Linked DNA regions of Homo sapiens. The protein of the gene in region 2 purifies or fractionates together with the protein of the main gene of each other region. This does not show direct contact. Each region holds a gene or a part of one and is shown on either strand. Other genes may lie near its edges.

Region 1 (3,500 bases), about 79 Mb from region 2:
AAAGTATACAAACATTTCAAAATTTTAATGGAAATAACTTAGACATTTATTATCCCTCCAAATAAAACAACCAGGAAACAAAATAAAGAATGCCAAGTTGCTATTTTAAGTACTGATAAGTCCTAGTAACACTGATTCATACATTATCTAGTCTTACATTTTGTAAATAAAAGTTCTTCAGCCTTATGGAAATAAATTAGAAGGTATGTTCTCAAAATGGTATTAAGTATATTTTGAAAGACTTCCAAAAATCTTTGACAATTATATATTATACATTCTCAGAAAAAAGTATATATCTATGTATCTATATATATCACTATAGTTCTATTTACTGCTTTCCAAGTAGCTTTTTCAAATAAAATCTAAAAGTCATTATTATTACAAATTCTAATACCAAAAAATCTCATAACTTATCCTATTTACAAGTTAGTGAGAGTATTATCTACACAAAATTCCTTAAATAAAAAGTAGACATAGTCATACCAGAAACAAACCAAGCAGGAAACAGAAAAACACAGAGCACATTCTATATACAGCTATACCTTTAGGCTTGTTAAGTAGCAAATAACCCTAATGTACACTTAATTACAGAAATAATTACATAAAGATATAAAGAAAAAATATCCAAAGATGTTTAACGAGTTTTCAGCCAGAGGTACTGTACTTATAAATCTTTGAGATTTAGAAATATTTCTGGTTTTGGTCTTATGTATAGGGCCTGATATCAAAATGGTCCACTGCTTAGAGTGAATAAGTGTAAACATTTTCAAAGCAAACAAACCAATCTTTAGGAGCTGCTTTCAATTCTTCACTGCTATCCAAAATATATTCCAATAAAGGTATGAATTATTATCAAAACTAGAGGCTGGCCTAGTCTGGCCTAGAAACGGGTAAGGTTCAAGCCTTGGATGTTGTACTTTGGAAAACACCAAGTAACGCAGTTGCTGGTAAATTTGTTTTCAAAGAAACATTACCATAGCAAAGTTTTCCCTAAAGAGCAGGACTCTAAAATAATTTTGGCACAAGCCAGCATCCACCCTCTCATAACACAGAGTTATCTCAGTTCCTCTGTGCTCCTGTCATGGGGTCTAAAAAGAACATTTAGATAATTTACAAGCCTATAATAAATCTTCAGCTGAAACACATTACAAAGCTCTGACTGTTAAACCAGTTTAAGAAAAACAGAGATGACAGATCTCTTAATAAAACCATAACATTATTAGCTTTGCCTCATGTTGTAAACAGTTATTATTAAATGCTGAATGGCTTCCTGTAGTCTCTTAATAAGTCATGATTTGTCTGAGCTCCACTTTAAACTTTACTACAATGCTTTTTTTCAATGAGAGAACCTATTTGTAAACTTTTAAATTTGCCATAAGAGACTGGGAAGCTTATAGATACATGGGGAGGTCTCAAAAGTTGACAGCGAAAGGTGTTAGCATAAAAGAGGGAGATGCTGATGAAGTCATCTGGTGTACCAGGAGGAAGAGATGGAAGGATTCAAAGAGAATACTTCTAGATCAAGGGAGGACTATCACGGCGTTTAAGGGAAAAGCACTCTCAATGCCTCCTCTAACTCCAGATCCTCTAGCTTTTCATTGTTCCTACACACCTCACATGTGTTTTGCATCAGAACTCACTTTCAGTAGCTTTAATGTATTTCAATGAGCTGTGTTTAAGGTTGGGAAGATATATGTGCATCCAGAGACACATGAAGGGTCTCGCTGTATGCTGGCTCGCACCTGAGAAACACTGTGCTACTCTTGATAAAATTATCTAAGTTCAACTTCTTATGGAATCCAAACACATAAAAATACATAAACCTTTATGAAGTATTATTGATGATGTCAATACATGAACTTTTCCATTTCAGCTAATAGACTAAACCACCTAAAGCTATTCAAATGCACATTTATTTAAATGTTTGGAATTAAGAGCAACCTAGAAACAGAAAACGTGTTCAAATATTTATTTTAACAGCATCTTTTGGAACATGTTTATTTCCCTTAAAAACGACACAGAGGAAACATGTACACTGTAACAACACCTTCCCCTCTGTTTCTCCAGAAGAAAAATGTTTCTGCATGCCTGATAACAGATGGTGCAACCAACAGTAAACCTGGCTCTCTACACCAGTGAAGAACCATTCTCCAAATGCCCAGTGTGCCTCAGAGGAAATATACAATTTAAAAGTTGACCCTGTAGCAAAAATTTTGAGTCAAATTATTAAAATTTAGAAAAGAACTGGATTCAAATACTTACAAACTAGGCAGTTTTTAAAACTAGACCTTTAAGACCGTCCTGGGTCATCCATAATATATCAGAGTCACTCTTAGGGGTGGTAACAACATAAATAGTATTTCACTTAACGTAAGGCTAGTCCATGAAATAATAAAATCAAACAGTTGGGATAAAAATTTAATTCAATTTACTGTAGGGTATCAACACATATTTGAGCAGAAGTCAATTTCTTTGCACTCATATATAACTTCATTTCCAGTTTTACATAAATGCAAATAATCCTTTAAAAGATTTTAGACATAAGAAGGCAAACTTTATAAGTTATAGCTCATAATTTTCAAATTTTCACAAATAAAAATTTAATGCAGGATCTATGATCTTGCATGCTATTAGTTGGTTTTCATTCATTTTTTAAGTTTCACAAGAACTTTTATTTTCTAGGATACTACACATTCAAAAAACATCTTTATAATTACAGGTTATCTTTTTTCTACAAAAATAGAATTGCTCAAAAATTTATATCAATTTGCTTTTATTTTTCTATAAATATTTTAATAGAGTTGTTAAATATCAGAATGCCTGATAGAATCATTTAAATTAATCCGTGTAGTCAAAATACTTAATATTTAAAATGTCTAGCAAACGTTTTTCATTTAATAAATGAAAAATTCATCGTGCAGTAAATGATATGTTCTGTCTTCATTTGTATTTTAGGTAGGTGAATACAATCATAGAACAGCAAAGTGTACCTCCTGCAAAGGTCAGACTTAAAAGTAGCAGGGCAGTTTCTAGTGGCATTTCCATTCCATGTCTGTTGTATGAGGAAATATATAGAACCTACTTCAGGATATTTAATCTGGATGTTGAATTAACTCATGCAGCCAGCATAAGATAAGGATTGCTGAATAAGAGAATCACAAACTTTAGTTCAAAATTTTGATGTTTTAAATATACTTATTTAGTGAGTGGCTATACCAGTGAAGGGTAACATTAATGAAAGTAAGAATGAAGTTTTAAGCATGAAACAGTAACTATAAAAACAAACTGCTACATGGAGACTCACTAATATAGCTTTATATTGTTTTCATTTTGATAGTGGGTTTAAAATCTGTGTTCAGAACTATAGAAATATCCAGAGTCAAAAAATATTTATCTCAAGGTCTCTTTCTAAAAGAATGAATTTCCAAAATAGTTTTATTATATAAATTTTTTTAAAGCCACTTTTCCTGCAAAAAGGTAAGAACAAGATAAAACCGCTT
Region 2 (3,378 bases):
CATTAAAAATATTTAATAAGCTACCAGATTGCTTTGCTGGAAGAAATACATTATTTAACATCATGGATGCTCTATACAGTAGATTCTTTCAATAGCTAAGACACTTCTAAAGTAAGGTACCAATGGATGCAGATCAAGAAAAAGAGAGAAAAAAAACAGGAGACTGTTAGGAAACCAGGGAAAAGCAAATGTCATTTTACCCAGAAGAAACAAAAATACTGTTTCTATTTGTTTATAGCAGAAAAACTGTGCTGCAGAGAACATTATAAAAACACAAGCAAAGGGGTTGTTTGGCAAATAATAAAATGCAATGCTTACTGTGCATCCTCCATGAAGAGATCACTTATGGATTATAGATTAGTGTGATTAAAGGTACACTTTGATGCAAAAGATTATACTTTACCACATATATAATATGTAGCACTTTTCTACAAAGGGCAGTTTATGTAAGTAATAACTTCCACAAAGAGTGAGAGAAACATAGACAAAATGAGAAAGACAGAGGCAGGGTACAGTCAGACAGAAAGACAGAAATGCTGAGCCAAGGGGCTTGCTCATGTCCTGCAGAAGATTTGAGATATTCTTTTTCATCTCAGTGCTTAATTTTTCCTATTACTGCACACTAATACTCACATGCTATAATTATTTCATGAGCTAACCCTCTATACATCCTTCCCTTTAGTTTCTTCCATGAAAAAGAAAAAAAAAGAGAGAAACCTTTAGTCTCATACTTCATTTTACAGTCAACTATTCAAGTAAATATTTCTCTGATGGCAAATTTCCAGATGAATCTAGAATATGATCCAAAACCACTGTCAGATTACATTTGATTTACTATGTAGCTCTCTTCAAATGGAGCAAGAATTAGCCCGTTTCCTAGGTTTGGGTTCTTGTGCTTCCTGATCCTTCACACACATACAGGATGTGCACATTGTCTCAGACAGTCTTCGGAGGCCTAGCCGGAAAACGCTGTTGGAGAGGCTGTATATTACACAGTTACAAAAACTATTACTTATTGCAAGCCAGGTTGTTAAGAAGGACAGAGTTGGATTGTCCAAGACCCGGGAGCTTTCTAGAAGAAAGTAAATTATATAGGGGAGCCACAGCATATAAAATACACTGGTTATCCTAAACAAAACCATGGCGTAGCGACGGTCAGGGCTGTGTCCAGTCTCTCTGGAAGAATCTACCTCATGACTAGGGAATCGGGCTCTTCGGTCATTTATCTCTTTGGTGTGCTGACGGCAAATTTTGAAAATGTGGAAGTAAGTGAAGCAGACAACAAAGGCAGCAGGAGCATAAAGTAAACAAACAATAAAGCCAGTAAAATAGGCACTGGTGAGCCAAGACGTGGCACACCATTCAAAAATGTCACCATGGTAACCAGGTTTCCCCCAGCCAAAAAAGGAAGGCAAGAAAATTAGGCAGGAGTAGATCCAGATCAAAATAATGCAAATTCTCAAGCGACAAGGGGTGACCAGTTGATTGTAGGAAAGAGGCTTGGTTATTGCAAGATAACGATCCACACTGATGCAAGCAAGACATGCCATAGAAACACTTTTTAGAACTGAGATGATATATCCAAAAACCTGGCAAGTCAATGACTCGTGGACACCTGTGGAGTAGTGGAGAAGTGACAGAGTAGGAACCAAGCAGCTAACTCCAACGAAAAGATCAGCATATGCCATCGTCTGAATGAAATAGCTGGTAGTATAATGATGTAACAGTGGAGCACAATGAAAGACAAAGATAACTGTTAGATTCCCAGCAATGATCAGAAATGTCAGCAACACAATAACCACTGTCTCGAAGATGCAGACATCCACCACACTGTAGTGGCCAAATCCAAGTGGGCAGGAGTGACGCTCGGACACATTCACAATGCCACTGCTCATGTTCAGGATCCTCCATTCAGTCCACCTGGATTCATTCATGGCTTGGAAATTTAAAGACACCTGCAGACTTGGCTACAGCAAGCAGATGCCCTGCCCAGCATCTGTTAAACACCGCACATGAGTGTTTCAGAACCTGCTTCAGTAGACAGTGTCAGTGCTTCTGTCACAGCTGAGAGTCCCAGAGAGTGCTCAAGTCTCTTCACCAGCCTCAGTTCAGCAGTGACACACCTCAGCTTTCGGGCGGGGGGGTGGGGGGGGGGCGGTAAGGGGTGGAGAGAAGGGGATAAGCTAGAAAGGAGGTGAAAAGAGGTCACTAATTAGTTTCCTCTGGTGCCCTCAAAGAACTTTTTGCAGACATAAGGCACTTCTAGAGAAAATAGACTTCTTATTATCTTGCACTATGAAAAATTAAATCTGTAAAAAGAAAAAAAATGAATTGCCAAAGGAAGAAAAGCTTCTGTGGGCTGTTCTCCTAAGAGAGGCAGTTTCTTAGGGAGCAACTGGAAAGAATGAGAAAAGAAAAACTCTGAAACTGTCTCAGGCTTCCTGCTTTATCTATGATGAAAAATGCATTCATATTTTAGATTTTAAATAATTTAAGATCTCAAATTTGGTTGAAAAGCTAAGAAAAAGTTCATTGTGGCAAAGAGTGTCTTTGGGCTTAGTTCAGGGATTGATGTTGGGGGGTCAAATTTATAACCTATTTCTCATTTTTCTAAAATCTAAGAAAAACAACTCTATCAAAGTTAATTTGAAAAGATTCATCTCTACATGGGCAGAATAGAGGTAACAAACAGACTCCAGATTGCCCTATAACTCTCATGAGAAAAAAGTATTTTCCAATAGAAAAGAGAATATACAATGAATTAATGAATTAACACCTGGCAAAATGTAATAAACTTCTGAAGTTTTAATTCTGCATGCATTTTTAAAGCATTTAGATGAAAGCAGTTTTAATCCATTACAGTTACTGGTGGTACTAACAGCAACGTAACTTATACCTCTTCCTTTTCAAAATGAATTATTTTTGCTATTAATTTGGCATCTATAACTTAAAATAACATTTGTTATTTCATATACCACCTTCCTTATAATGGAGCATGATAATAAAATATGTAGCTCACAGTTATTTCTCACCTTTGCAACTGTATACCCATATCTCACATATATATGTAAATATAAAGTTAGACAATAAAACTTTCCAATATACTCCGAGCTTATTTGACCAGAAATGCTGCCATTATTTATTACTTAGGTATTTCTAATAGGCTTCATGTTCTATGTTGCTATACCTTTTCTATTTTCAGTAGATGATTTAACACATTAAATCATTACTTCAACTATATCTTCTGAAAGTGGAAAATTACCTTGTTTATTACATTTGCAGTTATGTAGCAGCCATATGTTAAAAAATGCCTCTTCTATTTTTCTGTACTCTATTTTGAGCAAGTGCTCAATTAACACAGGGGCCATTAGGTAGGTT
Region 3 (3,500 bases), on a different chromosome or scaffold from region 2:
TCTTGGTGGTGATTACTGGTTTGTATTTCAATCGAAGTGAAACAAAGTAATAATCATTTAATTACTATCAAATAGAAAATGCTGCTATTAGCAAAATGTGTCACCTTCCAAAAACCTAATGAAATAAACTCTCTTTTTAATTTGACACTGTGAGTTACTTTAAAATAGAGAGCAAACAATAAAATGTTTCTTTATTCAAAAAGAGAGAAAGGGAAATTGAAAGGTATCTATACAGGGTTGATTAAAAAGTTAAACTGTCCATTCAGCTTCCCTTATTTTAATGGTTCTGGTGCGTTAAAAGAGAACTACAGAAGAGTCAAATATCTTTAAGAAAGGGAAGGAAAGTTAAGAGGACAGTATCTATAAGGGCTAGGTGGTTAGCTGACATCCCTTTCCATTTAGAATTAACCTTGAAATTGAAGCCACCCCCAAAATAACTCAATGCCTCTTCTACCAACGACCTGGAACCACACAGCAAACTCAAGAAGATAATTAAGGCTTTTCTGTGGATAACATTACTCCTAATTGGTATCAATTCCTGAGTCCTAGATACACAGATGAGAACTTAAAAAGAAAAAAAGAAAAAAGAAGTGCTTCAATTAGGCCATCCACTAAAAGGATTTAGGTGATAGTCTATTTCAGGGGTGTCCAATCTTTTGGCTTCCATGGGCCACATTAAGAGAAGAACTGTCTTGGGCCACATATAAAAGACACTAACACTAACAATCACTGATGAGCTAAAAAATAAAATAAAAATTGAAAAAAAAATCTCACGTTTTGAGAAAGTTTATGAATTTGTATTGGGCCACATTCAAAGCTACCCAGGACTGCAGGTTGGACAAGCTTAATCTATTTGATGAATGTGTGAAACACTATTTTTAACAATTTATTATTGACAGAAATTGCCTTGAGATTGTTGCTAAGGGTATTCCTATAAAATTTTAGTTAAAAGTAGGTTCTAGGGCCAGGCGCAGTGGCTCACACCTGTAATCCCAGCACTTTGGGAGGCCAAGGCAGGCAGATCACGAGGTCAGGAGATTGAGACCATCCTGGCTAACACAGTGAAACCCCATCTCTACTAACAAAAAAATAGCGAGGCTGAGGCAGGAGAATGGCATGAACCCGGGAGGCGGAGGTTGCAGTGAGCAGAGATAGCGCCACTGCAGTCTGGCGTGGGCGAGAGCGAGACTCCGTCTCAAAAAAAAAAAAAATTCGCAAGGCATGGTGGTGGGCGCCTATAGTCCCAGCTACTCGGGAGGCTGAGGCAAGAGAATGGCGTGAACCCGGGAGGCAGAGCTTGCAGTGAGCCGAGATCGCGCCACTGCACTCTAGCCTGGGCGACAGAGTGAGACTCCGCCTCATAAATAAATGAATAAGTGAATGAATGAATGAATGTACGTTCTAGGCCAGGCACAGTGGTTCCCACCTGTAATCCCAGCACTTTGGGAGGATGAGGTAGAATAATCACTTAAGGAGTTCAAGACCAGCCTGGGCAACAAAGTGAGAACCTGTCTCTATTATTTAAAACATAATAATAAAAAGTGGGTTCTAATGGCTCACAAAAATGCTGGCCTTTAATTATTAGACTCCACATATACAATCTGTAACATTTGGCACTATGTTTGTAAAGAGTAACTGAATATGCACTCCAAAATATGTCACTTTGACATACGGATTATTTTGAGCTGAAGGCAACTGAGAAGCAGGTACTATACAAAAAAGCTCTCTGCCCTCCCCTTGTTTGCCTAAAAGCAGGGTATACATTTACCAAGGTGTCCCCACTTCCCCTTTCCACCAGGAAGTACAAAGGTTGATCAAGAAAGACAACTTTAAACTTTTGGTGGCCTGGCAACAGCACAAAAGGAATCTATATAACACTTTACTAACTAACCTTTCTCTACCATTTATTTGCCTTCCTTCAATTTGCCACCCCTCGAGACTCAAGGTCCTTTTCCTTTGTCACTTCTCTAAAAATGTATTGTTTGGTTGAAGATGCTACATAAGCCAGATTTCTAAGCCACCTCTTTGAGATGTACTCATTTTCCTTGAGTATCTCCCATGTACATGAAGTGCATGTGTTAATAAACTTCTATTTGGTTTTTCTCTTTTTAACCTGTCTTTTGTTACAGGGGTCCACTCAGCTAAGAACTATGAAGGGTAGAGGGGAAACTTTTTTCTTTTGTCCCTACATTTGCTGCTAATTCTTGTATATACAGCCTTCTTATATAATGTTCTTAAGCAACCATGGTGTTTATTTGCCGCTTCCCAGAATTTAAGCATCATAATAGTGGGCAAAGAGTGACATTTATTACTGCTTTGAAATGGACATAAAAAAACCACTGGTGGCCGGGCACAGTGGCTCACACCTATAATCTCAGAAATTTGGGAGACTGAGGTAGGCGGATCACTTGAGGTCAGGAGTTCAAGACCAGCCTGGCCAACATGGTGAAACCCTGTCGCTGCCAAAAATACAAAAAAAATCAGCCGAGTGTGGTGGCACAGTAGGAGAATCGCTTAAACCCGGGAGGCAGAGGATGCAGTGAGCCAAGATTGTGCCACTGCATGCCAGCCTGGTGACAGAGTGAGACTTGGCCCCCCAGCCAAAAAAAAAAAAAAAAAAACACTAAACCACTGGTTACCCCAGCAGCACACGAAGGTACTTCTGGCTTATTTAACAAACGTGTGTATACTGATTTTTGAAAATGCAAGTTACATTCTAAACGCAATTGTCAAGCTTTCTAAATGAAGATATTCTAATATGAATCATTTTATCAAGCAAATAAATTTTACTTACATTTTGTATAACTCTAGACGTTCAAATTTGGCCTGCTATAAGTTCGAGTAATCCAGAAGTGTTAATATTACATAAGAGTTAATAAAAACTTTTAAAAATCACTTTCCATGCCAGGTACTATTTTAGCGTTTTACTTATTTTTAATCCTCCAAGCAACACTATTAGGAAAGTACTATTATTTTCTCCATTACACAGATGAGAAACTAAGAAGTTAAGCAATTTGCAAAAGGGAGTATTAATTACACCCTAATATTCTTTTTCCTTTCAAATGTAGCTGAAAGAACTGACTGGCCAGGAAATCCAGCATCTTATCCTAGTTTTGTCTCTGATCAGCGATGACCAGCTAGCTAAATGTACTCCTGTATCAAATGAGGGGTTCAGCCAGATGCCATCTCAGGTCTTGTCTACCACTAAAATGCTATGCCATTGTAAATGCTATTTTCCATCCCTATTTACAATCCCTTTAACCACTGAATACAATTTTCTGAAAAATAAATATTTTAATAAATGGAAGTTCAATTTAGGGGATTCCCATTCATTTGACAAATATATACTGCATCAGGCACTGTCCTAAATGCAAGTATTCTATTTTGCCAAATGATTTTCAGAGAAAGATTTACACATTAATTAGGTACTTTAACAGTATGGCACCCTCAGTGGAGCAAAATTCTCACTTTATAGGTCAACAGAATCTGCTAGAAGAGAT
Region 4 (3,500 bases), on a different chromosome or scaffold from region 2:
AATCAGTAGATTCTGGGGGTTCTTCCTCTGTAATCTCTCTTACATCTGCCTGTTCCTTTCCACAGCCTTCATGTCTCCCTCTCTCTGCAACTGACTAACCATCTCTGGTATAGGCCCTCTCAATGCCACCCACTCCCCCAAGTCTTTCTACTCTAAACTGACCTAAAAGGAGACAATGCTACCTTGTGCTGTCTTCTGCATAGTCCTGAAATGGTCTAATCCCATACTGGTACTTAGCTCTTTCCTCATATTTATTATATGTTTTATCATCCAACTAGATTATAAATCTGGAAAGGAAGGATCCTGTGGCTGAGATGTATCTGGATCCCCCATGGAGTTATGTTTTACACTTAGAATTCACTTGCTATGACATATTTTAATTTGCGTGAAAATTCAACCCTTAGATCACAAAATTATCTTTAGAAGGTTTTTCAAAACCAGATTACCCTGGTTCCTCTACATGTTTGCTCAATGACCCTGGACAAATTATATCACTTCTCTATTGCCCCATTTCCCCATGTGTGAAATGGGGTTATTAACAGTATCTTATAGCGTGGTAATGGGGTTAAATGAGATTATCCATGTAGATGCATACTATTGACATGTACTCCGTAAGTGTTAATAATAACCAAAATGTTCTCCATTACTACAATCTTGATTTATATTCATAAGCAGTTTTATCAGTGCCTTCAAAATACTCATTACCTTCTGTTTATACTAACCACACACAATAAGCTCAATATGAACACTTAATTTTTTGACTCTACCAACATACACCCATGGCTGGCCCTTGAGAAGTGGCTCTAAGCAGCAGCTTTAAAGCTCAGGGTCTCCCTGAAGCCCTCTGCATGTCAAGTACATGAAAGAAGGAATGCCATCTCACCAGTGGCCCAGCAGGGGCGCCATAGGGGCCAGTGGCAGGGTAGGCTCCGGTGGCACTTGGCTGTCCAGAAGATGGGTAGGCCCCAGGGCCGCTGGGTGGCCCTGGGTAGACTCCAGGTGCAGGTGCTCCGGGATAAGCTCCAGGTGCTCCAGGGTAGGCGCCTGGAGGTGCCTGTCCAGGATAAGCCCCTGGGGGTGCCTGCCCGGGGTAGGCCCCAGGATAGGAAGCCCCTGGGTAGCCCCCTGCCCCAGCAGGCTGGTTCCCCCATGCGCCAGGCCATCCTTGAGGGTTTGGGTTTCCAGACCCAGATAACGCATCATGGAGCTGGAAAGAAAGACATACACAATTACGGGACAGAAAGCATTCTCAAAAGCAGAATTTTCAGGAAAATAGGAATATGTGATCTAAGAAGGAGAGGAATATGGCAAAGGCATTACATGCATATCATTAAACTTTTTCCACTTATTAATAGTTTGAGTTTCTAAGACTAAAATTAGATGTTGGGATTACATATACTTTTTCACTTTATTCTTGCCTCCCAACGTCTCAGATCAGGGAGGGCTGCATTTTCATAATTAGCTCAAGTCAGGAGTTAGCGCTCCTCTACTTATAGCACATACTTTTTCATCACCGTGAGAAAAACAATCACAAACATCAGAATGCCCAGACTGTACCGCACTTCCCGCTACTCAGAGGATTTCTCAGCTCCTGCCGGCAGAGTCCACTCCCTTCCGCCCTGGGCCTTTTGGTGAAAGGGTTACTGTGAGTGAGTCCCAGGCCTCGCTCTGCCTGGCTTTCTTCCCAAATCTGCTGCTGGAAAAACAAGGCTCCAGCTTGCAAGCCCTCATTGGACAAATGAGTCCAGGGGAAGCCACGCAGTGGGAGAGTGAAAAGGGAAAGTCATGGTAAAAACAAAACCCCCAACCCTCAACCATGTGGAGCTGATCAAGGGGAAGAAACAGGCATAAAACACTTACCGAAAAATTGTCTGCCATTTTCCTGAAAGAAACAAAGATTATCATTTTATCCTAAAAGCTTTCACCAATTTCCATTAAACTGAACCTCACCACTAGTTCATTGTGCAGTTCTAATCCATCTCTAGGCATTATGCCTAAGTCAGTAGTGTGGCGCCACAAAAACATCTCTTCAAGGGGCAGGGATGCTATCCAGCTAGATTGCCAAACCCTATTTAACTCACAAGTTTAAACTTCCGTCACACTAGCCTGTGCTCTGAATCTTACCCATCTGCCCTCTGTCCCCACTAACTGCCCCATCCCCTACTCTGGGTTTTTGAAGATAAGCAGTGATTGATTACTACTGAGACAGGAAAGACAATGACCTCCAGACATAGTTGCTGCCCTGCTATTTATTCCTCTATTTGCACACACTTATGCCTGCTCCTGGCCAGGCACTGCGCAGGCTCCTATCTAGGTGTGAAGATGAATAGGCCATGATCTGCATGGTCAAAGGGGCCACAGGATCTAAAACTCAAAACAATTGAGCCCACAGAGATATAGAATAGAAGGATGGTTACCAGAGGCTGGGAAAGGTAGTGAGGGAGGGTGGGAGGGAGGTGGGGATAGTTAATGGGTGACAAAAATAGTTATAATGAATGAATAAGGCCGGGTATTTGACAGCACAGCAGGGTGACTATAGTCAATAATTTCATTGTACGTTTGAAAATAACTAAAAGTATAACTGGATTGTTTGTAACACAAATAAATGAGAAGAGGGATACCCCATTTTCCATGATGTGATTATTAGGCATTGCATACCTGTGTCAAAACATCTAACGTATGCCATAAATATATATACCTGCTATGTACCCATAAAGATTAAGAATTAAAAAAAAATAAAAGCCGAAGGGCCTACAGTGCAGCAAGGCAGATGAGATGCATCCATGGAAATGTGAAATAACAAGTCACAGATGCTATGAGTCAGAATGTGTGCTGTAGGAATTCAAACCCAGAAAGCTTACTTCTAAGAAGGAAAGGAAAGGTGCTGTTGGAGCTAAGCCTCAAAGGGGAGCTGAAGTTTGTATGTGCTTTTTTTTTTTCAAAGGTACTTGTTATTCCAAATAAAATATTTGGCAGTACAACAAACTAAGGTGAAAAAATTCAGGCAACGTGACGTGAAGGAAAAAAATATTTGGGTCTAAGATGCTACCAAAGAGGGTTTGCCTAAGGGGTGGTCTGGAGACATCAGTCCTGCTTTCTCCTGTTCCTTCCCATGTCAAGGCTCCAAAAGCACAAGATGCTTCACAGCTGTTGTAGGTGCTCCAGCAGTGAGGGGAGGAGGGCAGCTGGGCCCCTGAGGCATGGGTGAGTTCTTCCTAAGCTCAGGATCACCTGTGCCATGGCCTGAATTACCTGGACCTTGAAACAACCAGAATATCCTTCTCTTTGATTTGCCCACCTGTGATATTTACTCAATCACTTTTAGAAATGGCATCGGCCCCAAGGGATCCAATAAATGTCCACTACTTGATTCAAATGCAAGATATTGGCTGGGTGTGGTGGCTCATGCCTGTAATCCCAGCACACTGGGAGGCCAAGGTGGGCAAATCGCTTGAGCCCAAGAGTTCAAGACTAGCCTGGGCAATATGGCAAAACCCTGT

Evidence for each region.
Region 1: the proteins of GPR52 (region 2) and TLCD4 purify together in Homo sapiens (affinity purification with mass spectrometry; 3 studies listed by BioGRID and IntAct, with this or other methods). This does not show direct contact.
Region 3: the proteins of GPR52 (region 2) and ERMP1 purify together in Homo sapiens (affinity purification with mass spectrometry; 3 studies listed by BioGRID and IntAct, with this or other methods). This does not show direct contact.
Region 4: the proteins of GPR52 (region 2) and LGALS3 purify together in Homo sapiens (affinity purification with mass spectrometry; 3 studies listed by BioGRID and IntAct, with this or other methods). This does not show direct contact.

What each region holds. Positions count from the first base shown.
Region 1 is NC_000001.11:95,193,855-95,197,354, reverse strand, and holds part of TLCD4 (TLC domain-containing protein 4), read right to left. Parts: 3' UTR 1-3,500.
Region 2 is NC_000001.11:174,446,668-174,450,045, reverse strand, and holds GPR52 (G-protein coupled receptor 52), read right to left. Parts: upstream 2,083-3,378; 5' UTR 1,935-2,082; coding exon 849-1,934; 3' UTR 501-848; downstream 1-500.
Region 3 is NC_000009.12:5,826,618-5,830,117, forward strand, and holds part of ERMP1 (endoplasmic reticulum metallopeptidase 1), read right to left. Parts: intron 1-3,500. UniProt on the Homo sapiens protein: Within the ovary, required for the organization of somatic cells and oocytes into discrete follicular structures.
Region 4 is NC_000014.9:55,135,752-55,139,251, reverse strand, and holds part of LGALS3 (galectin-3), read right to left. Parts: intron 2,270-3,500; exon of another isoform or gene 1,883-2,269; coding exon of another isoform or gene 1,879-1,882; coding exon 1,861-1,878; exon of another isoform or gene 1,208-1,860; coding exon 884-1,207; intron 1-883. UniProt on the Homo sapiens protein: Galactose-specific lectin which binds IgE. May mediate with the alpha-3, beta-1 integrin the stimulation by CSPG4 of endothelial cells migration.